5 separate regions of the Homo sapiens genome follow, and regions 2, 3, 4 and 5 are each linked to region 1. Evidence: fine-mapped expression QTL. A gene starts in region 1. Each other region holds a variant in brackets. All regions are shown on one strand. Distances are from middle to middle.

What was found.
Region 2: its variant is fine-mapped to the expression of ANGEL1 in whole blood (TOPMed, PIP above 0.99).
Region 3: its variant is fine-mapped to the expression of ANGEL1 in transverse colon (GTEx, PIP 0.94).
Region 4: its variant is fine-mapped to the expression of ANGEL1 in whole blood (TOPMed, PIP above 0.99).
Region 5: its variant is fine-mapped to the expression of ANGEL1 in whole blood (INTERVAL, PIP above 0.99).

Annotation. Positions count from the first base shown.
Region 1 is chr14:76,810,770-76,815,870 of GRCh38, forward strand. It overlaps ANGEL1 (angel homolog 1), which reads right to left and starts at 2,113. Exons shown (of 10, transcript NM_015305.4): 1 at 1,995-2,113. The coding sequence starts at 2,058. RefSeq lists enhancers at 1,154-1,728, 1,729-2,302 and a silencer at 1,751-2,180.
Region 2 is chr14:76,761,291-76,766,391 of GRCh38, forward strand. VASH1 (vasohibin 1) reads left to right here and starts at 178. Exons shown (of 7, transcript NM_014909.5): 1 at 178-1,840. The coding sequence starts at 1,532. RefSeq lists silencers at 145-334, 435-704. The variant G/A (reference allele first, on the strand shown) is at 2,406.
Region 3 is chr14:76,775,425-76,780,525 of GRCh38, forward strand. It overlaps VASH1 (vasohibin 1), which reads left to right. Exons shown (of 7, transcript NM_014909.5): 5 at 468-849; 6 at 2,535-2,647; 7 at 3,522-5,101. The coding sequence ends at 3,594. Among named protein-coding and RNA genes, the nearest start is that of VASH1-AS1, 8.7 kb to the right of the region's middle. RefSeq lists an enhancer at 115-1,073. The variant G/A (reference allele first, on the strand shown) is at 2,931.
Region 4 is chr14:76,786,594-76,791,694 of GRCh38, forward strand. ANGEL1 (angel homolog 1) reads right to left here. Exons shown (of 10, transcript NM_015305.4): 8 at 4,704-4,773; 9 at 4,018-4,181; 10 at 1-2,795. The coding sequence ends at 2,635. VASH1-AS1 (VASH1 antisense RNA 1) reads right to left here and starts at 131. Exons shown (of 2, transcript NR_104184.1): 1 at 1-131. The variant C/T (reference allele first, on the strand shown) is at 2,899.
Region 5 is chr14:76,846,851-76,851,951 of GRCh38, forward strand. The region is part of intron 7 of LRRC74A (leucine rich repeat containing 74A); the gene reads left to right. Among named protein-coding and RNA genes, the nearest start is that of LRRC74A, 23 kb to the left of the region's middle. The variant C/T (reference allele first, on the strand shown) is at 1,980.

The sequences.
Region 1 (5,101 bases):
CAACAGGCAAGAAAGAAAGTGGGAAAAACTCTAAAATTAGAGCCCCCAAACTCTGAGCACAGTATTTTGGTGAGAGCAAACAACTCCTACACTCACACACTCAACCATTTATTTACAGCACAGGACGAGTAACATGCACGATGCTGGCCCTCAATCACTAGACTCATTTTATTGGCAATTTTTTTTTAAAGGGAAGAAACCTTAAAAGTGGCTCAAATATTGAAAGACGGTTCAAATATCTTGTTTGGGGTCTATGTATATTTATGTCCTTCTAAACAATGGTTTTAACCACGGTGATTTTGCCCTCGGAAGACATTTAGCAACGTTCAGAGACACTGTTGTTGTCACAACTGCAGCATTGCTACTGGCATCTAGTGGTTAGAGGACAGAGACGCTGCTGAACTTCCAACAATTCACAGGACAGACCCACACCAAATGATCCGGTCCAAAACGTCAACAGTGCTGAGATTGAGAAACCCTGCTCTAAACCTATGTATGGGCTGGGTCGTTGAGCTTTAGCCTCAAGGACTTCCTGATTATCTGCCCCTTGAAATATCCTCTGTGTATACCAGATGGCAGAGGTTCTTTGGTTCATATGCACGAAGTTACTAGCTTTCAATTTTGGTAGATGTCTTTTGGTGGTGGTGGTGGTGGATTTTCAGCAGCAGAATGCTTTTGTTTTTTAAAAATCTTATCTGGAAACCAAATATGCCAAGTAAATATAAGTGGGACTACTGTAATGTGTAGGTGGGGGGGCGGGGGGGGCCCTCCTCTGAGATCCCTAGAACTCTACTGGTCTGGAAACCTCTGGACTAGTATACTGTATCACTAAGGCATTAGAAGAGCTCCAGGAAAAACAGCAACATAGTTAAAAGAATATGTTTAGTTCTCTGGAAACAATTACTTCTGTGGAGTTTCCCACATTCCTCAGAAGTATGGACACACAAGACATTCCTGAATTCACTGAGTGCCTACTGTATACCAAGCAATGTGTTAACACCAGAGATACAGCGAACAAAATGGACGTGGCCCTGCGCTCCTGAAGTTTGCATTCTAATGGCAGATACACAGTAAAATTTAAAATATTTCTATATGAAATATATATTATCAATGACACACACATTGCGTACCAATTGTGTAAAGTTCCACAAAGGAAAACCACAGAATATACAATTGGAGCCCTCATTCCTAAGTACTTCTTGGTCCTGTCCCATAAATTAAAGGCAAAAAGTCTGCGAGTTCCATGGGATCTCAGAAACTGATGGTCGCATAAAACCCTCCGTAATTTCAAAGCCCAGAAATAGAGAATGCAGACAAATTATGAAACAATAACGAAATAAACACCCCCTCTTTGAGGTATCGACTGGGCATTGCCCCCACCCCAGCACATCTCCCTCTAAACCGCCGGGAGTGGGGGCAGGAATGCTCCAAAGCTGAGATCTAAATGTGTCTCTGATTGAACGTCCGTTTTTCAACCAAAGACACCGGTGAGCGAGAGCTGCCAGGTGGCAGTGAAAGGCGAGTGTGAAGTTAACCTGGGGAAGATCGGTGCGTCCAGTACTTCGGCCATAAACCTCCCAGAGCCGACCCGCCTCGCCCGCTGAGAATTTGGGCACTCGCCTAGGTCCGAGCTACTACCCCTTCCCGACCCGCCGGGGTGCTGACTTGGCCGACCCCACAATTTCTCTGCACCCCCAGGGCCAGGAAAGGGCCCTGCCCGTCCACAGCTCCTCTCCACCTTAACCGCGGCCGGACGCCATCTGACAACAGGCGGGAGGAGGGGCCGCCCACGAGGGACGTCGGCCAGGTCCAGGCCTCGTGGGGTCAGGAGGGGCCCGCGGGGCAGGGGCTCAGGACCGCCTCCCTACACCTCGGCACTGCCCGGGGCACGGTAGTCGTGAGGCCCGGCCAACCGCACGCCGCCCCAGGCCCGCGGAGCCCCGCAGAGGCGAGCCCTGGCCGGGCTCCTGTCTGTCGGTACGCCTGGCCGGTACCTGAGAGGGCGCGGAAGAGGCGCGTGGCCGGCAGCAGCAGGTAACACAAGCACGACGCGATCATGGCCGGCCGCCCGCGCCCGCCTCCGCTCCTCACTGCAGCCAGCAGGTCCTCCCTCAGCTCGGCCCCGCCCCCGGCCCGGTCCGGCCCACGTGGTGCCGCCGCCGCGCTTCAACAACAACTTTATTGGGAGCGCAGGTCTACGGGTGCGCACGCAGGAAGTGGGAGGAGCCGGTTCCCATGGCAACTAGCCACCCCTAGCACCCGGCTGCCACCCAGGCGTCCCGAATTAAAATTGAGCGCCTCACTGGAGGCCCCATAGTGTTATTCAAAGGCCACAGTTTATTCCCACTTCTGCAGCTGACTAGGTGTCCACCTTGTTACCACACTATAGCCTCTCCGCCCCTCAGTTTCCTCACCTGTAAAATGAAGAGCTGGACTTTCTCTAAGGCTCCACTGAACCTTGACTTCTAGCCCTTCTCGACCCAGAAAGGAAGCGAGTTATTCCCCCATTTCCCCCGTTTTCCTGCCTCTACTTCCCTGTCTCAGATTCTAGGTCACAAATTGAGTCCTACCTTGCTTCAGGAAGTAAGACTTTGTCTCCTTCCCTACTTTCTAAACGGGCCTTCTTTTCCCTAATCTAGAAAAACAGGGTTTCCCATTGGTAAGGAAGTCAAGAAAGAAAGGAGAGAGGACAAAGAGAGGAGAGAGAGAAGGGAGAGAGGAGAGAGACAGAAGAGAGAAACTTCCACAAGGCCAGGGACCAGTTCTGGCTGGTTGTTTGCTCACTTTGAGGTATCTCTAATACAATCCAAGCACCTATTGTAACCAAGTACCCAGCTTGGAAGTTATATTCTTGTTATATACTTCTATTTCTTTATTTTTGTTCAGTTAACCACTAGGCACCCCCCGACACCCCAGCACCCCCCATACACACTGTTAGCATATCTAATTGTATGTTCGCTTAAAAGTTCCAGAGACTAAATCTTGAAACAATATAGGCATCTGTGGAAATCTCCACCAGGAGATTGATTCAAGGCTACAGTTAATTTATAACTCAGCCCAGCCCGAGATGATGCCAGCCCATTCACCAGATGGGCAGTAACTCAAGACAAGTCATCAGAACTCGTCATGAAGACCTGCACTGCCTCACCCCTTGCATACCCTCCATGCCAAAACTTCTTAAAGCCTCGCATTTTGCTTGGAAATGTGAAGCAGCTCCATTAAAGCAAAAGCCTGGATCGTTTTTCCCCACTGCTAGCTTTGGTTTATAATAAAGTCAGTCTCCTTCTACCATACCACGACCTTGCTCGTTGGTTTTGCAAGCGGCCGAATCTGCATTCGCTAGCACTACTAGCCACCACATAAGCCTTTACTGACTGGTTGAACAAAGCATATGTCACTAAATGAAGGCCAGTTCTGCCATCACTTCTGTGCCACCTGCGACCTCTTTGAGTCTCTCTTCCCCAGTCCCCCTCCCCCAATCTTCTACCCCAAACAGGCTCTGAAGGAGGGACTGGACAATGCACCCAGTTTCAGTACCCAGTGTCTGAGTTGCACGATTTCCAGTTTGTGGCTGGAGCCTTGGTTGTTCAGGGAAGCCTTCTGGGGAGTCACCAGATCCTGGACCAGCTGGGTACATCATAACACTGAAAGGCTAATAGGAGGAAGAAGGAGAGAGTTAGTATTGTGGCCTTCCCACTACTTACCCTTAGTTCTAGAGGTGGCAATGTCTGCCTGCCTTCAGGCAACAGCACTTATCCCTTTGAGATGAAACAGAGGCCCAGCAATCTGAAGGTTGGGAAGCTGCTTAGAAATTAGTGCACAAATGGTGGATCTACCAAAGGCGCTCCCGAGGTCAGGCCCCCTCCTTTGATGTAGCTTAAGTAAAACCCTCCTTGTACCCTCCTTCCATTTTGTACCATGAGTTATCCAGAAGTCCAAGTTCCAAATCAGATCCTAATCAAGGGTAACGGTTCCCTTATCTCCACTGGGAAAATGCTTTCAAAATACAAATTTCTAGGCCCTACTCCCAGAGTTCTGATTTAGCAGCCCTGGAATGAGGCCCTTAAACACTTACTTATTCCAATGCACGGTTTGGGAACCTCTGCTAAAGGATCCAGTCTCAACTGGGCTGTTCAGTGCACAGTGTGGGCACAATGTGTCAGCCCAACTGATCTATGTTCTTTCAGAGGCTTTTTCTGCGGCCAGTTAAGTGAGGCTTCCCTCTTTTTGTTTCCTGGTCCATAATCAGCCGTGTTGGAAGGTGTAGGGTGATATAAGGATCACAAGCTTTGGAGTTAGACCAACTGAGTTGAAATCCTGGCTCTGCCACTTTTTACCTGTGGAATCTCTCAGGTTGCCTAAGCTCTTGGGGCCTCAGTTTCCTCATTGTGCCTGACCCAGTATAAACTCTCAATGTTTACTATTACATTTTTGGATTTGGGCAGAAAAGCAGCTCCAGACGTGGCTGATGTAGGATCTTCTTCCACAATTTCTGGCTAAAATAGAGCTCCTGCCCTCCAAATTGTAATGAGTATTACTAAGCAAGCCAATAACTACAGGTTCCAAGGAGACTTGGCCGAAGGAGTGGAGCCTTAGGCTTCCCCAGTCAGAGGAAAATTACAAGTGCAATCTGCACAGTCTCCAGCCTCATTGTTTCAGAAATATCCCAAGAAGAGAGACGATTCCCTCAATTCATTCCAGCTGTGCTAACAATGAAGACAAGTATGAGCACCTGCATCCATCACTACCATGGTTTCCAGGGTGCAGAACCTATGTAATGGAGCAAGTGGGAGGTTTTGCAATACTTTGAGAGACTTAAGATGCTCTCTTAAAGGGACATTTCCAGTCTATAAGAAATTTAAGCCCTTGAGGGCTAAAATTTTACTTATGACAACAAATATATGTGGAATTCCAACAGAGTGGCTGCATTTATTAACTTATTGGTTGAACATGTGCAAATATTGGGGCGGCATAGTGCTTTCTTCAGGATTACAGAGGCTACGGACCAACGCCTGGGACAGTGCTGCCCAAAAGAAATATGTTGTGAACCACATATGCAATTTAAAATTTTCTAGTAGCCTCATGTAAAAAGTAAAAATAA
Region 2 (5,101 bases), 49 kb before region 1:
AAAACGTCCTCCGCAGCTTCGCACCGGCTTCGCGGCGCCCTGACAGCTGGGTGAGGAGGGAGCGAATGCCCACCGGCGTCCTTGGGGTAACTTGGGACAGAGGCACCGCCGCGGGGGGCGGAGGACTGGGCGCGAAGGCGCTGGCCCTTTAAGGGGGGGACGGAGCGCATGCGCGGCGCGGGCCGTAGTCGAGCCTGGTGGGCGGCTGGCTGGCAGGGGACGTGGTCGGCGGCAGCGGGGCCCAGGGGCGGCGGGGCTGCAGCAGCGGCGGCCCCAGCTTCGCCGAGCAGCGATCGGCTGGTGGGCTTCTCGTTGGCGGGCTCCGCGTTGGCGGGCTGCTCCCCAGGCACCAGCGCAGCGCGCGCTCGCCCGGCTTCGTCACTCGCCTCCAGCTACATCCGCCGGCCGAGGCTGCGCGAGCCTCCGGGCTTGCGGTCCCCGCCCCGCGGTCCTTCCTCCACCCTCAGCCAGGGCAGCTGCAGCCCGAGCGAACAGCCACGGAGCATCCTCCGCCCGCCCGGGCCGCGCCACCGCCCATGCTGCAGCCAGTCCCAGGCAGCGACCCCGCGGCCGCAGCCCGCCGCTCAGTGACCTCAGCCTGGCCCCTGCGCGCCGCCCGAGCCGGTCCCGCTGAGCCGCGGGCCCCGTGCCCTGCGATGGCTCGGCTGGTGCAGCGCGGCGCCAGGTGCCAGCCGTCCTCCCGCTGAGACGCGCCCGAGTGGGGACCCGCTGGGCCTCGGGGCTCGCAGCCTTCGCCTCCCCGCCGCGCCCGCTCCCTTTCTGGGGACTCCGCCGCTGTTTCTGGGGACGAGGGGACAGGGGACCCAGACAAAGCCCACTTTGTGCAGGGAGTTGGCCGCAGGCGGGGAATGTGCGCGTCGGCGCGCGCCCCCTCCCCGCTCCCGGCCAGCTGCGAGTCTTGGCTCCCGGACTTGTCTCGTCGCGTCGGAGAAATCGCCCCCCAGCGCCGCTCTCCCGCCCGGGGGTCTTGGTTCCGAGCTCGCGCGGCCGGGAGTCGCCTCGGTCTTCCTTGGGGCGCGCGCAGATGTGAGCGTGCGAGAGTTGTGTAGGGGATTTTGTTCCCTCCGAAACTGAGACCCAGGGCGCCCAGTGGGCACCCGTGCCTTGACTCTGTCCTTTCTGCAGCCGCTGGTCCGAGCTGTCTGGCCTCAGTTTCCCTCCGACTTTTCTCCGCTCTGCCAGCCCTCACTGCTGCCCGTCATTGTTCTCGCAGTTAGATGGGGGTGCTTTGTGACGGCTGCCAAGTTGGGGTGTGTTCTCTTTATTCCGTTTTTCAAACAGAACAAGGCCTCCAAGGCTGACCCCAGACAACCCACCCCCTCGGACCCTAATTCACCTTATTGCACTGATTTTTTTTATCAAGTCGTATTTTATTGTACAGGAGCCACGCCCTGATTTCTTAAAGGCGCCTTGCACTCTGGCCATGTGTTATCTCTGCAGCCGGTGTGTGGGAGGCCTCTTGTGAGCCAGTTGTTTTCCCGCCTCCACCACCCCCCTCGAAGATTTAGGGATGCCAGGGGGGAAGAAGGTGGCTGGGGGTGGCAGCAGCGGTGCCACTCCAACGTCCGCTGCGGCCACCGCCCCCTCTGGGGTCAGGCGTTTGGAGACCAGCGAAGGAACCTCAGCCCAGAGAGATGAGGAGCCAGAAGAGGAAGGGGAAGAGGACCTGCGAGACGGAGGCGTCCCCTTCTTTGTCAACCGGGGTGGGCTACCTGTGGATGAGGCCACCTGGGAAAGGATGTGGAAACACGTGGCCAAGATCCACCCCGATGGAGAGAAGGTGGCGCAACGGATCCGTGGGGCCACAGACCTGCCCAAGGTGAGACACACGGGTCAGGGGGGTGATAGCACAGTCTAGGTTTTAGTGACCTTGGGGCCAAGAGTGAAGCCACACTCTCCTCCCACGGGGCAGGGGACCACTGGCTCGGTAAGATCTTTAAAATGCAGTGATATCATACCTGTCTAGGAGAACTTTCTCTCACTGCCATTCTAGGAGGGAGGCTCACATACATTGTCTCCAGGAGGCCCTCCCCGCTGTCTTTTAAAATGTCCACGTTTTACAGGAGGGGACAGCAGCAGATGGAACTAACAAACACAGTAGGATGGCTTGACGTCTCATTTGCTTGATGACACTTGCCAAGCCAGAGAACTGTGAGCAGACAAATGTAATGAATGACTAAGGAGATGCAGGGCTTCATATGTTGAGAAAATATTTTCGTGCATTATGTCATTGAATTCTCCCAACAGCCTTGTGACGTAAGTACAGTTTGGATTCCCATTTTACAGATGAGAAAGCTGAAAACTCAAGTAGGAACTCAAGATCCCACAGCCAGTAAGTGGCAGAACTGAGATTCAATTTCAGGTCTTCAGGAGAAGGGCGGGGG[G/A]TGGTGGTGGAGGGAAGTGTCCAGGTCCTCTTCTCTGTTGGACAGTAGATTCAAGCACATTAGAAGAGGTCTTATGGAGAAGCATAAAATGAAATAATTTTTCTGTGTTGGCTGTAACTCCTCCTCCATGACAGCTATACTTCAGTTGTGTCACCAACGAAAACAGAGGCTGTATCTCATTCATCTTTGTCTTCCCAAGGCCTCCTGTGTGCCTGGCACAGAACAGGCACTAGTGTGTGTGTTTGCTGAATGAAAGGGTATTTGAGAGTTTCTGTGCTGTACGCTGCTATATGGAAATACATGCCAGATATTAAAAAAAAAAAAAACATGATCAAGACTAGGAGGCACTTTGCCAAATGCAGAGGCCTGAAATCTCCAAAAAAGAGCCCTTTGGACTGAGTTCAGAGCCCAGTGCTTAGCCCTGCCTGCCCAGGTTGGAAGGAAGGGGGCTAGGAAGAATGGAAGTTAGTGTGAATTAGACATGAGGACAAGTGGCCCGTTTTGTTTTTACCAAGTTATTGGTACAGCCATCAGAAAGTGTCTTCTGGGAAAAAGAGAATCAAAGGTTGAAGGTTTAAATACTGCCTAATGTTTCCAGGGGAAACAAAATGTAGATTGATTTGGAATGGCCGCATAAATGTGCTCTGCACTGACTTAATATTTATTTAGCTAATCCCCTAGAGTTGGATGTTGTTTCCAGTTTTATTCCTAAAATGAATACTATGGTGAACATTCTAAAATATAAATTTTGGGGTTCATCTCTGATTATTTCCTTGGGAAAAATTCTGAAAGCGAAAGTATTGCGTCAAAGGATATTGACATTGGTAGGGGTCACCTGCTTATCTATATGGCCTCTTCCACCTATTTGAGATGCAGTTTTCTTATCAATAAGATGAGGTTGATTGTGGGGAAGAAATGAGAGACTGTGTGTTAAAGTATTTAACAAACTGTAAAGCCCCAAACCAGTACCTGGTTATTGGATATCAGTTACCTTTTTTTTTTTTTTTTGAGATGGAGTCTCACTCTTTCCACCAGGCTGGAGTGCAGTGGCATGATCTTGGCTCACTGCAGCCTCCACCTCCCTGGTTCAAGTGATTCTCCTGCCTCAGCCTCCTGAGTATCTGGGATTGTAGGCACCTACCACCACACCTGGCTAATTTTTGTATTTTTGGTAGAGATGGGGTTTCATTTTCAACATTTTGGCCAGGCTGGTCTCAAACTCCAGACCTCAGGTAATCCACCCACCTCAGCCTCCCAAAGTGCTGGGATTACAGGCGTGAACCACCACGCCCGGCCAGACATCCATCACCTTTACTTATGTGCTTTATCAAGCGGCAAGACTGGGTTTTGCTCAGATCATTTGTCCCGATGAGGCCAGAGTCACACCCTGCTCCCACGTGAACAAGTCGGGCAGCTCTCCAGCCATCTTGCTTATGTCTAAATCAGGCCATAAAAGAGTGTGAATGGTTCCCTGCAGAACTGCCACCACTCCTGGGAACTAAAAAAGAAATAGTGAGCTCACTAGTAACTGGTCTGTAATGTCATTCTGTCATCTTCAGTCCTCATGTACAGGAAAGACACGGATGAAGGAAGTCTAGGGGTGGGGGCTGTGTTGTGACAGACCCCTAGACTTCCATCGCTAGGGTAGAAGGAATTTTGTGAGAGGTTTGGAAAAATTTGAACCTCCCCCTCTTCAAACCACAGATCTCAGATAAATCGCATGAGTCTGCATGAGGTCCCTCCTCTACCTGGGCTCTGAGTAGAAAGGTACCCTTAGAGTCTGGGAGTGCAGTGGAGTCCAGGAGGCCTTGGAGAGAAGCAGCGTGGGTTGGGTGCCTGGGTGCCAGGGTGCCAGTGGCAGGGTGGGCTGACCCCGCCCTTACCATCCCTAGGGGCCATGCCACTGGAGCTGGCACAGGGTCATTCCCTACAGCGGCCACACAGTGTGGGGCTCAAGAAGTGTTTTGTTGGGAAAATTGGGAGATTTCTCACATAAAGATCCAGAGTTTTGGCATCTTTTCAGAAAATAAGAAGACTTGGGAACACATGGGAATCTGCAGTCCCACGTGGCAGCTGTCAGCTGGGGCTGGGGAGTGAGTCCTACTCCCCCATCTTGCCACTGTCTCCACCACTCACCTACCAGGCCTGCCTGCCCCGTGTATGTTACTTGCCCGGCCCCTGCATGTGGTTGAGTCTGGGACCCCTGCAGGCTGGTGTCATAAAAGGAGAGCACTCTGGAGTCAAAGCTACCATGTTCAAATCCTTGATCTCCCATAACTACTTATATGAGGAAGACAGGCAACTTTCTTGTGCCTCAGTTTTCCGCAGCTGTGAAATGGAGCTAATAGCAATGCCCATCAAGAGGATGTTAGAGGAATTAATGATGCAAAGCATGTGATGCTTCATTAAGTGCCTCTAATAGATACCCAGTAATGGAGCAGGGAGTGAGTGTTCATCGACACCCCACTAGCGCTTTGGAGAAGCAGCCTTTACAGGGATGATGCCAGTATGTTATAGGGCAACAATTTCTAGAAAGATCCCAAATCCAGCAACAGCTTAGGCTCCTTGATAAGAGTCTGTCCTTGATGTTTCAGGCTTCCACCCCCTTTAAAAGCTTAGTGGCCACTGACCCCAGACCCAGCTGCTGAAGGTCTTTTATGGTCTCTTATGGCTCAGGCCACAGAGCTCCTGCAGAA
Region 3 (5,101 bases), 35 kb before region 1:
TTGAAGGGCCACAGGCAGGGTTGCATGTGGATATGGGGAGAGGACAGGGTGAGGGTAAGAGAAGAGTGAAGCCGCGTCTGTGGCCTGTGTGTGTGCCAAGGTGCGGGATGGAGGGCGAGGGAGTGAGGCAGGGGAGGGAAGGCTTCTCTTCCGTCCTTGGGCCACTGGGCTCTGGAAAGCCCTGCAGTGTGGCACCAGCCCTGCTGGACTTCAGAGCGGTGGCCACAAATCCCTGGAAGCCCCGTGCCTATTCGAGGTTCCCTTTATTGAGCTCCAGCTGGATACCAGGCTCAATGCTAGATGGCAGGAATACCAGGAGGAGACGCCAGGCGTATGGAGATGAGCAGGACTGGTGTCTGCACCCCAAGGCTGGCGGTGCGTGGACCCCGTGGCTCCCGGTCCCAGTCCCTCCCGGTGTGCTGGCCCCGTGCTTCTCCTGGCTCTTTCCTTAGCGGGGCACTGGCCAGTTACCTCACCAACAGCATGCCCACCCTGGAGCGCTTCCCCATCAGCTTCAAGACCTACTTCTCAGGGAACTACTTCCGCCACATCGTGCTGGGGGTGAACTTCGCGGGCCGCTACGGTGCGCTGGGCATGAGTCGGCGCGAGGACCTGATGTACAAGCCGCCCGCCTTCCGCACGCTCAGCGAGCTCGTGCTGGACTTCGAGGCCGCCTACGGCCGCTGCTGGCACGTGCTCAAGAAGGTGAAGCTGGGCCAGAGCGTGTCACACGACCCGCACAGCGTGGAGCAGATCGAGTGGAAGCACTCGGTGCTGGACGTGGAGCGCCTGGGCCGCGATGACTTCCGCAAGGAGCTGGAGCGCCACGCCCGCGACATGCGGCTCAAGGTCTGCCCGCCTTCCACGCCCTCGCCCCCTCCCTCGCCCCCTCCCCCGCCCCAGCAGAGGCGATGTGAGGATTGAGAGGACTGGGGAGCTTCTCAGGGGACTGGGGTGCTGGGACCTTGCTTAGTGGTCGATATTGTTCAGGTGGTCCCCTGGGGTGGGCAGACCAGGACGGCTGCGGAGGGAGGAGGTGGGTGGGCTGGGTTTGGATGGTGGTAGGTGTTGGGCACATGGCAAGGTCACTGGTGGAGAATCACGGCCTGTCTGGAGGGTGTGATCGGGTGCTGTGATGGGCAGCCTCCCCACTCCTCCTGTAACATATCCTGACTCTGCCCCCCAACCCTAGCAACCATTAAAGGACTAGGAGGTGGTCAGAAGAAAGGGAAGTCAGACCATGTGGAAGACAATGAGGGCAGTGTTCCTTCTTCCTCTTCCCACCCACACTTGAGCAGGAGGTGATAGGGAGTTGGGCTGGGGGCTGTTGTACCAAAAACAGCTGGGCTGAGCTGTTGAGCCCTAGAGCCTTTCAGCAGGCAGAATTCTGACATCTGCCTGGGTTCTCCTGGGGCTGCCAGGGCCCCCTGCTGGGTATCTCCATAGCTCAGTCACTGCTGCACTGTGACTGCCCCTCCAGGCAGCCTGGAGCCTCCGCCTCAACCACCGACCTCTGCACTCCCAAGTGCACTGCTTCTCTTGACAGCCCTGGGAGGCCAGCGGGCGGTAGGTGGTAGCTCCATTTTCAGGGTTGGAAGCCCAGAGTCTTGCTCACTGGCAGTGAGAGGCAGATCAGACTGGAGCTCAGCCTCCTGATGGGGTGATGGGGAACCCAGGTGTGTTGCAGGTGCCTGCAGGTGTCCTGGCAGGGGTTTGTAAGAGCTACGGCTGCCCTAGCCATTGCCAGCCCTAGGCCAAGATCTCCTGGGGTGACAGTGCCTTCCCCTAGGGCAGAGGCAGGCTGCAGCCAACCCTGCGTTAGAGAGGGGCTGCTCTCTTCTGCCCCTGAGCTGCCGCTCCCCACCTAGCTCTGGGTCCCCCAGCACCCTGGCTCTTGCTCCTCAGTTTGCTATTGTGTCTTTAAGGCATCAGATTGGATCTAGGGTGAGAGCCAACAGTTCCCTAGTGTTTAGAGCTGTGATGGATTCCCAGCCTATTCAGTGCTAAACACTCACCTGTGTTACTTGCCCCTCTCCAGCACTCCTGCGTTTTGAAAACTCAAGTCAAGCTGACGGTGCCATATAAAGGATGACTCTTTTGTTTTTCTCATTTTTTTCTTAAGCAGAGCTAAAGCTACCAGTCTGACTTCTCAATGGCTGGAGATACCCAGCATCACCCTTGGGGTGAGTGGGATCTCAGCCCCAAGTTCAGTGTGGGCTGCTCCCACAACTGGCACGTTTACCTGGCCTTTGTTGGGGACTTTTTGCAATATTATGGTATCTCAGTGACTTCCCCCACTTCCACTCTGCCTTCAGGAGCCCACAGGGATTGGACAGCCCCATGGAGGAACTCCTGCTCTGGCAGCTTTAGTGCCTGGGAAATAGGTTGGGAAAGATCCAGACAGGGAAGAGCCATGCTTGAGGTTCCCCGGGCCTTCCCCAGGGCAGCCTCCAGGGACCTGTGGCTCCTGGAAGGAGAGGTTGGGCTCCAGGGCAGTCCTGGAGTGATGCTGTTGCTTCCTCCTCTGCACCTAGATTGGCAAAGGGACGGGCCCTCCCTCTCCCACCAAGGACCGGAAGAAGGATGTTTCTTCCCCGCAGCGGGCCCAGTCCAGCCCCCACCGCAGGAACAGCCGCAGTGAAAGACGGTGAGAGAGGGACCACGCCTGGGTGGGTCCAAAGAGGGTTTTTTTCCTTTCCTCTCATCGTGTGGGTCCCTTTTTTTTTTTATCTCTCTCCCACCCTTCTCTCTTTTTCGCTCCCACCCAAGGGAGGTGACTTGGGATGGTGGGTTTAGAGGTTTGTGTATTGACATTTCCCACAGCAAGGCAGTTCTACTTCCCCAGAGAAACCAAACTCTGCTAGCCCACTAGTCTGAGCATGGGTTATGTGAGAGAAAAGGTAGAAAGGATGGGGCCCCTGCAAGGCAGT[G/A]AGCCACCCAGGAATGTCATGGGGGAGGGCGTGAATATTAGATGGCTTTGAACATAACTTTGCCCCCCACCCAAGAGTCTGGTTTTTGTCTGTATCCAGGTAGCAAGAACAAGCCATTGAAATACCAGCTCTCCTCCTCTGATTTCAGCTCCTACACATCACTCTGACTCTTGCTTTAAATATAATTGTCATTCAGGAGCCACCTCTCTGGTATGAATTCAGGGGTGGGGTACTAAGCAGGCCTCTGGCACCAAAATATCCATCATCTGTGACTTTTATCTAAGAGGCTTTTGTAGATGACAGATTCCCCTCAGACAGATTTATACTTTAAGCTGTTACCTACCAACTGCAGCCAGATTAGCCAGCCTCCAGCAGCGAGAAAGCCTGTGAGAGCGAGCCGGGGCCACATTCAGACAGCACAGGCGGGCCAGGGTGTCCAAAAACACACTTCCATACGCACTGTGCTGTGCGTTGGAGGGCCACTTGGAGAATGTGGCGGGGAAGCCACCAGGCAGCCGCTGCTGGCTCCCCAACTCCATCTCCCTAACAGACCACTCACTCTCCTCCCGCTCTGCTCTCTTCCTCCCACAGGCCCTCGGGTGACAAGAAGACTTCCGAGCCCAAAGCCATGCCAGACCTTAACGGGTACCAGATCCGGGTCTGAGGCGGATGCCAGCACCCCAGGCCCCACCCACTCTTGGGGGCCAGGATCCACCTGCTGGAACCAGCCTTATGCATGGGGAAGGCGGGGCTGGTGACAAGGCAGGGCAAGAGGCTGCAGGAAGAGTGTGTTCCAGCTCAGCCCCCCAAGCTGCTCTCGCTCCCACTGAGCCAAGCCCCCTAACTTTGGGCCTAGAGGCCGTTAGTATTTTATTTGGAGTTTTTAACTCTACAACTGAAGTTTAAGGTATTTGGGGAAAACTTAGTCCAAATGGATCTGCTGATGGTGGGAAGGCCAGTGCTTAACAAATCCATGTGTCATGGGGCCAGGTGAGGGAAACTGCTGGTTCTGCTGGTGCCTCTGCCCCTGGCTTCTCTCTGGGAGTTGGGTGCATCTTATCAGTGGGAAATCTCCCAGCCTTACCAGGCCTGTGATGGGGGGTGGGGGTGGGGTGGAGATGTTTCTCCAGTTCTGCCTGCCCTGGCAGAATCTTGACCCAGGGAAAGGGAAGCAGGGTAGGAGTCCTTCTGAGAAAGGTCTGTGTAGCCCATTAACCAGGAGCTTGGCACAGGCCACATCTGCCCCAAGAGCATGAGCTCGTGGCTCAGGAGAGCCTTCAGGCCCTTGAGGCCCCCATGGGCAGTGCTGTGTGGGCAGAGGAGGGGTGATATGAGAGCGAGCCCAGGGAAGGACCTCTGGGCAAAAAGTTCCCAGGCCCTAACTGCGTCTACTTGCTCAGTCCCAGCTCTGCCTGTTGCTCTAGCCCACAGGCTCCCTGCGGAGGGTCTGGGCTTGGCGGAGGACCCAGAATGGCACTGAGGCCAGCATGGCTGTGGGAGTTGAGCAAACCCTGGGTGCCAGTCCAGGAGCTGTGGCTGGACATGGGGTGATGGGGCGGGATGCTTGGGCCTGGGTCTCTCCGCCAGCAGTGCCAGGAGCCCTTGCTGGGGAAATCAAGACCAGACTAGGATGCTTCTGCCCCAGGCCTGCCTTCCATTCTTTAACAGCCCATCTTGGCTTGGGGTTGCAATGATGGCTGGGCCAGTCACTTGTGGCAGGGCATCAGGGCCCTGGCAGGGAAGAACCTAGGCACCTGGGGTTGTCCCCAGCCTGCCCGTCAGCATGAGATACCCAGTGGGAAAGTGAGAGGATGCGGAGAGGTTGGCAGAGCCAGGGGTAGGTTCTGGAGGCTCAAGCAACAAGGAGGTGCAGGTAAAGGGTGCAGTGCAGCCACTGAGGGACAGCTGGGAACTGGGGGATGCAAGTGAGAAAGGGATGTGGGGGAGAGTTCAGGATCAGGCTGCTTGAGGAGTAATGGGTTACCTACAGCAGAGACGAGATGGCTGTTTGTCAGGAGGCGGTAGAAAGGTAGAAAGGATTCAGATTGTGGAAGGGTAAACGGATGAGATGACCATTAAGGTTTTGTTTTACTGAGAGGCTGTAAGTCTGCCAGGGACAGCTGTCAGTAAGGCTGCAGAAGGGCTGGGGGGCTACACAAGGAAGAGCAGAA
Region 4 (5,101 bases), 24 kb before region 1:
TGTTCAGGTAAGACAGAAAACCAGATCTGGTTTCAGGGCTCCCAGTGGGCATGTGGGCTTGGCTGGTCTTACTACATAGGGAGGTTGGAAGACAAAAGCACCAACAGAGGTAGGCCTAGGAAGGAAGAGACATTTTTCCAGCGACAGATGGCCCACTGCTCAGCCCTGGCTCCAGAATGCAAAAGAGATCAGAAATAGATGCTCAGCAAGAGGCATGTGCCACCCGCATCATGTCTCATGCAGCTGCCATAGCTTTAATCAGGAAAACACACATCTTATCCCACTTTGCACAGACCCTCCTGAAGTGCAGAAGATACTAGGAGGAGGCATGGGGGGAGCAGATGGAGGAAGAATGAAAAGCAGTCCAAAGAATCATTCTCTCACTTGGGAAGGACAGAAGAAAGCTGTACCCCAGCAGTGTCAAGGCAGGAGGCTTCACTCAAGCCCTGTTCCTCCCAGGCCTCACAGCAGTGGGAATTTACCTCAGCTAATAGAGGGAGATCTTACAACACATTTCTCAATCTAGATTCATGTCTTGAGACCCCACCCCAAGATCAAAAGCTCCTTAGTCTCTTCCTCTGCCCACCTCATTCTTCAGGCCCTCTCTCAAGGACCTAATCCCTTCAGGATCCTAATAAAATGAACAACATTGGGGGGAAAAAAGGTAAACCTTTATTTGGAAAAAGAGTTTAAATAACAATTTAAAACCCCATTTCACTTTCAAAACAGAAACAAGAAAGCAAGGAAAAGATAATCTATCAAGCATCTGCCCTCTGCTGTGGTTAGCCATTTTAAAGCTGCATTTCCCAGCAGAAGAGAACAGTGATGGGCCCTAGTCCTAGGAACCCACAGGGCACTGTCTTGAGACCCTTTTAGGCAGTGTCCAGGGAACAGACAGACAGAATGAATGGTGGGGTGTAGACAGACCTGGGGCTCAGACAGGCACATGCCCAGTACCCAGGAAACAAAGTTTGAAAATATATACACATAGAAAAATAAATTCCCTAGAACCTAGGCATGGAAAGCTTCTAACCATGAATGCAGCAGCACAATGCAAACTGGGTCTTTGGCTTTCAAAAAAAGGAAAGAACCTTAACCCCTGGCTTACTGTCCCGAACTCAAGTCTCTTGACCACTGTCTTCAGTCCCACTTTGGAGGTCGAGTGAGGCAAGAGCAAGTCAAATCTACCAGGGCCAGCAGCCACTCTGACTTAGGGAGATGTGTGGAGGGGCTGGCCCAGGATCTCCCAAGGCCACACCCCAGCAATGAAAGATTAAGGCATGCAGGTGACACAGTGTGGACTAAGGAGTCCCCTGAATAAGCCAGGGTACCCTTCTGTTAGGGGAGGGAAAGCAGACGCAACAAGCAGCTGAGGCCTTGCTGGACAGAGCCAATCCGCAAGTACTGCCACTTCAAATTCTTGGACCAGTTTTGTCCAAGGCCACCTTTCTGCTGAGGCAGTTTGGCCTGAGCTAAATACCAGGGTTTTCTAGAAAGGAAATGGAAGGGAAGCGGGAGATGGGAGATAGCAGAAAGTAAAAAGTGGTGGAAGGAGAGGAACAGAAAATTGCTTCTTAGGAGTGGAGAGGAAAGAGAATCAGCTTAGGTCTTCAGTCCCAGCTGAGGCAGCTGAAGAGTCTACCTGCTCCTTCCCCTACTGGAACTCCTACCCTTGCCCCAGTTCTGCAGGCTGCAGAGTCCAGTGAAACAAGAGTTTCCTGAAGACTCTTTCTCCTCCTAATCCTTAAATAGTTTTAAACCTCATACCACTACCCTAGCCCAATGAACCCCACATAAGGGTTCAAACTTCCGCCTCCCTCAGGGAAGCCTGGGGAAAGGGATGGCCCTTGTGAAATTACACCAGGTCTGTGGGGAGCTCTGGGTTGGAGGCACAGGGCCAGCTGGGACAGGTAGCGCATCCCCCAAAATTTGCCACTCCAGGATGTGGGCCCCATTTGTTCCCAGAGCCCAGACGCCGGGCCTGCCCTGGTTGGCAGGATGAATGCCTAATGAAACACAGAGGCTAAAAGGAGAGATGGGGCCATGCCCTGCTGCTGCCTGCTCATACATAGGTACTTGGGTAGACTCTGAACCTGCCCCAGGCCTACAGCCCCAACATGAAAAGTGGACTGGTCAGAGGCAGGCATGGCTGTGCAGAAGTCTCACCCCAAGAGGACACATACATGATATGCATATCTCACATATGCATGCCTGGCAAGAGGGCTGGGCCCAGAAGTCCTGAAGGCAGGGAAAAGGTCAGGTCAGAAGGTACATCAAGAAACGGCCTGAAAGCAAATAACCAATGAAATCAAGAACTCCCATAACCCTGGTAATTAAAAATCAAGGGGGAGCGCTGGATACATGGAAGGAAGGGGGAGCCCCCCTTCTGCCTCTCCCAGGGCCACTGAGTGTGTGGCACAGGATTAGGAAGAGGCTGGGGTGGGGCAAGGACCACAGGCAGAGAACGCAGCCAGGCCTGGAGAAAGTCTAACCGTGGGAAAAAGGGAACGAGGAGGGGGAAGGGAGGGGATGTAAGTTTCTTGGATCTAAGTTTCTAGATGCATGGGATTTTTCCACAGTCTCTGATCCAGTGAGCTCTTCTGGAAGAGAAGCTCTCTTCCCCTGGGAGCCCTGTCATGGGGCGGTGACTTCCATCCCGAAGCTGGCTAGCAGGCAGAGGTGGTCTGAAGAGCAGAAGGGGTTGGGTAAGCCATTGGCAGCCCAGAGTATCTCTTCAGAGAGAAGGGAGAGACGACCCAGGAGCTTGAGAGTTCCATCTCGATACAGCCTGTGATCTGGGGCACAAAGCAGAAGCCAATGGGTAAAAGCAGCCGCAGCCACACTGCATGGGCAGGCAGTGGCAGAGTCCTTTGGGAACGCCTTCTGCAGGCTGCATCC[C/T]CTTGGCTGCCCACTGCCCCTCACCTCCTCTTGCAGCATCTGGCTGAGGAGGCCCCATTTTCTCAGAGATACTCCATAATATCATCAACGAATAAAGACAGGTGAGTTCCGGGGAACTGGGGCAAGCTGGAGAGCCCACCATTATAAGATCTTTTGATTTTCCAAGAGAAGCTAGAGATCCAGCTTTTCTATATAAAATCTGATTTTTTTTTTTTTTTTTTTAGATGGAGTCTTACTTCGTTGTCCAGGCTGGAGTGCAGTGGCGCAATCTCAGCTCACTGCAACCTCTGACCCCCGGGTTCAAGCGATTCTCCTGCCTCAGCCTCCTGAGTAGCTGGGATTATAGGTACCCGCCACCATGCCTGGCTAATTTTTTTTTTTTTTTTTTTTAAGACGGAGTTTTACGCTTGTTGCCCAGGCTGGAGTGCAGTGGCACGATCTCGGCTCACTGTAACCTCTGCCTCCCGAGTTCAAGCGATTCTCCTGCCTCAGCCTCCCAAGCAGCTGGGATTACAGACACCGTCACCACACCCGGCTAATTTTTTGTATTTTTAGTAGAGACGGGGTTTCATCATGTGGCCAGGCTGGTCTCACTCCTAACCTCAAGTGATCTACCCACCTCGGCCTCCCAGAGTGCTGGGATTACCGGTGTGAACCAGTAATACACGTGCCTGGCCATAACAGTAATACACATGCCTGGCCAAAAAGAAACATTCTTTACACAATACAGGCATGGGGCTGGGAGATTGCTATACTGTGCCCACTGGTATGGGGAGAGGAGACAGAAAATAAGGTCTCTTACCTAACCAAGTCCCTCATTCAGTGGCTGTCATTAAACAAACTCAACCAATTCCTAGATCTCTATTTTTACCTCTAAAATGGGGATTGGGAGTGACTGTCCTACCCTCCTCTCTTTAATGCTGCAAGGGTAAAAAGAGACAAGGCAGGCAAGTGGCCTATGGGGAGAATGATAAGGATGACCAGTGCAAGGGAGGTATGAAATCTGCTCCTTTGCTGGTTAAATCCCAGCAGCTGAAGACATGCTACCAAATGCCTGACCTACCATTAGCTGTTCCCAGGGACCTGGGGGTGGAGGAACCCAGGATCCATCAGGCTTACCAGTTCTGTTCCCATTCTCACAGGACTCAGCTGAGAAGAAGATGTAATCTACTGTCATTCCAAGACCCAATGGCATTGTAGTGACCTCTGGGCGGCCACGCTGGGGCAGGAAGTGGGTATATACTGACGTCAGGTGGAGGCAGTGCTGGATGGTACCTACAGTCCTACAGGGATGAAGGGGGAAACATTAGTTAACAAAAATTACTAAATTTTCCCTAGATCACTTTTTCTATGGGTTTTATGAAGATTTTTTAAAAGGATGATCTCAGATGACTCAATCTCAGCCAATTCCTCCCCATGCTAAGAAGGGGCTGGCAGTCTTAGCTAAAATTAGCCTAGAAACACACATTTGTACTGAGACTCCCTAACACTCCTAATCCCCCACTATCTGCTTGTTACCTGGTAAAGTATCCCCAATGTACCCCTGTCTGGGGCCCAGGCCTCTTCTGTGAGGCTTTACCCTCTGAGGAAAGAGTACATAGCCTTTTCACCTGCAGTAACATGGGTGGGTCACCTCTGGCTTCTGCATACCTACATAACCCTCTATAAGTTTAGCAGATATTAGGGGAAAAAGAGCTTATCAAAAAGTGCTCCCCCAAGTCAACCTCAGGACAACCAATGGGAATCTCTCTCTTACACCTAGGCAAGGGCTGGATTGAAAACAGAAGAGAACTGGAGAAGGTTACCTGGAGAAGGCAGGCTCAAGCTCCGATGCATCTTCCTCAAGGACAGACTCAGCCCAACCCGCAGGTCGCTCTGCAGAGGACCAGAGAGAAAAACATTTTCTCATCCACAGACAGTGAAGCAGGATCAGAACCTTTCACCCTAAAATCCCTCTCAGATCCTTGACTGGATTGCTTCAGAAGGATCCAGAAGGAGAAAGGGAGAAACAGTGAGGAGGAGAAGATGACCATAAACCAAAGTCAAGAACCTCAGAAAGCAGATGTAGGGCATCTAACACAGACATTGTCTTCTGTGGCTCCTCACCTTTGTTTTTCTTTAATTTGATTAAAAAAAAATAAGTCATATAGTCACATGGTACAAAATCAAAATGTAGCAAAAAGTATCAGTGAAGTTTCCCTCT
Region 5 (5,101 bases), 36 kb after region 1:
CAGGTAGATGGTTTGCTATATGAGTTTAGAGCTGGGTGAAGAGATCAGGGCTGAAGATACACATTTGGGGTCATAGGTATATAGATGTATTTAAAACCATGAGGCAAGATGAAGTCATCTAGTCAGGGAGTGTAGACAGAGTTGAGTAGGTGGCCGTCGAACTGACCTTTGGGTCACTCCGACATTTTTAGGTTTCACAGAGGAGGAAGAGGAGTCTGAGGAGTGGTCAGTCAAATAGGAGGGAAACCAGAAAAGCGAGGTGGCAGGAGCCGAGGAAGGGTGCAGTGCAGGAAGAAGATCGACAGTTGCATCAAATGCTGTTGAGAGATCAAATAAGACGAGGATAAAATAGTAACCATGGCACTTGGCAGCATGGAGTGTTAGTGGCTTTGAAAGTCCTATTTTAACTATTCACAGTAACAAAGACAGGGAATCAACCTAAATGCCCATCAGTAGTAGACTGGATTAAAAAAATTTGGTGCATATACACCACGGAATACTATGCAGTCACAAAAAAACTGAAATCATGTTCCTTGCAGGAACAGGGTTGGAGCTGGAGGACATTATCCTTAGCAAACTAACATAGGAAGAGAAAACCGAATACCACCTGTTCTCACTTATAAGTGGCAGCTAAATTATGAGAACACACGAACACAGAGAGGGGAACAGACACTGGGGGACTAACTGAGGGTGGAGGGAGGGAGGAGGGAGAGGAACGGGAAAAATAACTGAGTACTAGGCTTAATACTTGGGTGATGAAATAATCTGTACAACAAACCCTGTGACACAAGTTTACCTATATAACAAACCTGCACATGTACCCCTGAACTTAAAATTTAAAAAAAAAAAAAGTGCTGTTTTAGTGGAGTGGGTGAGTTATGGAAACCCAAATGGAGGAGGTTGAGTTGAAAATGGAGGCCTGGCACAGTGGCTCATGCCTGTAATCCCAGTGCTTTGGGAGGCCAAGATGGGAAGCCAGGAGCTCAAGACCAGCTTGGGCAACATAGTGAGACCCACTCTCTACAAAAAATTCAAAAGTTGGGCTGGGTACAGTGTCTCACACCTGTAATCCCAGCACTTTGGGAGGCTGAGGCGGGTGGATCACCTGAGGTCAGGAGTTCCAGACCAGCCTGGCCAACATGGTGAATCCCTGTCTCTACTAAAAATACAAACATTAGCCGGTGTAGTGGTGTGCGCCCGTAATCCCAGCTGCTAGAGAGACTGAGGCACAAGAACCGTTTGAACCTGGGAGGCAGAGGTTGCAGTAAGATGAGATCCTGGGGTGGGGGGAGTGGGGAGGGATAGCATTAGGAGATATACCTAATGTTTAATGACGAGTTAATGGGTGCAGCACACCAACATGGTACATGTATACATATGTAACAAACCTGCACGTTGTGCACATGTAACCTAAAACTTAAAGTATGATAAAAAAATAAAATAAAATATTACTTTCAAAAATAAATAAATAAATAAATAAATAAATAAATAAAAGACGAGATCCTGCTATTGCACTCCAGCCTGGGTGACAGAGTGAGACTCCATCTCAAAAAAAAAAAAAATCAAAAACTAGCTGGGCATGGTGGCACATGCCTATAGTCCCAGCTACTTGGGAGGCTAAGGCAGGAGAACTGCTTGAGCCCAGGAGTTAGAGGTTATCGTAAGCTGTGATCATGCCATTGCACTCCAGCCTGAGCAACAGAGTGAGACCCTGTCCTCCAAAAAGAAAAAGAAAATAGGATGCAAAGCAAAAAGAACACTATACGCAACCACAGAAGTTCTGCTGGGAAGGTTGGAACAGAAAAAGGGGGCAGGAGCCAAGGGAGACATAGAGTCCAAGGAGAGTTCTTAAGGATGGAAAATGCTGAGAGGAAGAAAGAAGAATAAACTGATGCTACAGAAGAAGGAGGAGGTAATTACAGGAGCAAAGTCCATGAGAAGGCTGCAGGCAATAGAGTCCAGAACAAAAGTGCGGAGCT[C/T]GCTGGCCTGAGAGAGCAGGAGGGACAGTTCATTCATTGAAAAATGGACGAGGAAAGGGTGGGTGCGGGTGCAGTAAGTGGGTAGATTTCATGGTGGCATTTGAAGCCTGTCATTGCCGCTATTTTCTCAGTGAAGTAGGAGGCAAGATCTTCAGCTGAAAGTTCAGTTCAGACCACTAGGGTTGATGGGAGAGCAGAAGGTATAAAATACCATGCAGGAGGGAGGAGCAACATGTAATGGAAGCACCTTTCCATGTGGGGCAGTTTGAGTCTCTGTCTGAAAACTGAGGTCATAAATTTAACATGAGACAGACTGTGCTCTCTCTTTTGTTTTGTTTTTGAGGCGGAGTCTCGCTCTGTTGCCCAGGCTGGGTGGAGTGCAGTGGCACAATCTTGGCTCACTGCAGCCTCTGCCTCCCGGGTGCAAGCAATTCTCGTGCCTCAACCTCCTGAGTAGCTGGGATTATACGCCCAAGCCATCACACCCAGCTAATTTTTTGTATTTTTGGTAGAGATGGGTTTTCACCATGTTGGCCAGGATGGTCTCCAACACCTGACCTCAAGTGATCCACCCTCCTCGGCCTCCCAAAGAGCTGGGATTACAGATGTGAGCCACTGCCCCGGGCCTGTGCTGTCTTTTAAAATTGTTATAATCGTACTGCAAGTGCAGCTTTTAAAAACACTTACTATTGCTGGGCGGGGTAGATCATGCCTGTAATCCCAACACTTTCGGAGGCCGAGGCGGGTGGATCACCTGAGGTCAGGAGTTCAAGACCAGCCTGGCCAATATGGTGAAAACCTGTCTCTACTAAAAATACAAAAAATTAGCTGGACGTGGTGACTTGGGTGTATAATCCCAGCTACTCGGGAGGGTGAGGCAGGAGAATCACTTGAACCTGGGAGGCAGAGGTTGCAGTGAGCAGACATCGTGCCACTGCACTCCAGCCTGGGCAACAAGAGGGAAATTCTGCCTCAAAAAAAAAAAACCCAAAAAACAAAAAAAAAACCCAACACTTATTATTTGAAGTGATTGCTATGTGACAGGCATCAAATTGGGCATTTTACATCAATCCTCATTTAAAAAAAACTCTATATAGGGCCAGGCGTGGTGGCTCACGCCTGTAATCCCAGCACTTTGGGAGGCCGAGGCGGGCGGATCACAAGGTCAGGAGATTGAGACCATCCTGGCTAACACGGTGAAACCCCGTCTCTACTAAAAATACATAAAATTAGCCAGGCATGGTGGTGGGTGCCTGTAGCCCCAGCTACTCGGGAGGCTGAGGCAGGATAATGGCGTGAACCTGGAAGGTGGAGCTTGCAGTGAGCGGAGATTGCGCCACTGCACTCCAGCCTGGGCGACAGACGGAGACCCCGTCTCAAAAAAACAAAACAAAACAACTCTATACAGGTTGATATCTCCATCGTACAGATAAGGAAACAGATGTAAAGGAAGGATAAGTAACCTGCCTGGGATCACATGGGTAGTAAGTGGTGAGATCAGAATTATAATCTAACTTGTGTGGCCATTTGAGTGATGCAGGTGTGCAAGGTGTAGCTTAAATGAGGGAATTGGCAGAGAAGAGGAAATAAGGGTAAAAAGAGAGTGAAGGAGGGGAGGGGGTAATGAAGGCAGGAGAAAGTTTGTTCCCAAAATTATATAAGGTGTTGTGCACTTTACTAAAAACTCACACCCAGGGTTGACACAAAGAGAAGCATGATCAGAACGTAGTGCACTGTCCATGAAAAATAAGAAATAGGCCCGTGCAGTGGCTCATGCCTATAATCCCAGCACTTTGGGAGTCCGAGGCGGGTGGATCACCTGAGGTCAGGAGTTCGAGACCAGCCTGACCAACATGATGAAACCCTGTCTCTACTAAAAATACAAAAAATTAGCTGGGCGTGGTGGCAGGCGCCTATAATCCCAGCTGCCCGGGAGGCTGAAGCAGGAGAATCGCTTGAACCCAGGAGGCGGAGGTTGCAGTGAGCCGAGATTGTCAAGGGCAAAACTCTGTCTCAAAAAAAAAAAAAAAAAAAAGAAAGAAAGAAAGAAAGAAAAGAAATAAGACATTATTCCTGGGCCAGAGGCCTAAAGGCAATTCCTCCCATTATCCTCCCATTCAGTAATGGTTCAAGAGGACTTTAGCCTTTCCATCAATGGCCTCCTTGGCATAACTGCCCTCCCCAAATAAAAACAACAATAATAATGTGTTTAAATAGGATGTTCCAACCCTGTGGAACATGTAAGCAAAATCATCTTCAGGTCAAAACAAAAGTATGATTTCTGTGCAAACCCAGCTTCTCGCCAAGCCTGGTGCCTCCCCACTTCCAACTGATTGTGCCCCTGAGCCTCTGCTGGAGAGAAATTCTGGAGTCACCACTGCAGCCGTGGCCTGCCATGATAGGCATCATGTGACGTAATATGCCAGGTCCATCACAGCCTTCCTGTGTAAATACAGCCCCTGAAGATGTTTTCCAGCTACTTCTGTCTATTTTAATTCATAATATTCCACCAGATAAATAATTCTTGCTTTTATTTATTTATTTTTGAGATGCAGTCTTGCTCTGTCACCCAGGCTGGAGTGCAATGGCACCATCTTGGCTCACTGCAAACTCCGCCTCCCAGGTTCAATCAGTTCTCCTGCCTCAGCTTCCTGAGTAGCTGGGACTACAGGTGTGTGCCACCACACCCAGTGAATTTTTGTATTTTTAGTAGAGACGGGGTTTCATCATGTTGGCCAGGCTGGTCTCAAACTCCTGACCTCTGGTGATCCACCTGCCTCGGCCTCCCAAAGTGCTGGGATTACAGGTGTGAGCCACCGTGCCTGGCCAAATAATTCTCACTTTTTTTTTTTTTTGAGACAGAGTCTCGCTCTGTCGCCAGGCTGGAGTGCAGTGGCGTGATCTCCACTCACTGCAACCTCTGCCTCCCGGGTTCAAGCGATTCTCCTGCCTCAGCCTCCTGAGTAGCTGGGACTACAGGCACGCGCCACCGCACCCAGCTAATTTTTGTATTTTTAGTAGAGACGCAGTTTCACCATGTTGGCCAGGGTGGTCTCGATCTCTTGACTTCGTGATCTGCCCATGTCAGCCTCCCAAAGTGCTGGGATTACAGGTGTGAGCCA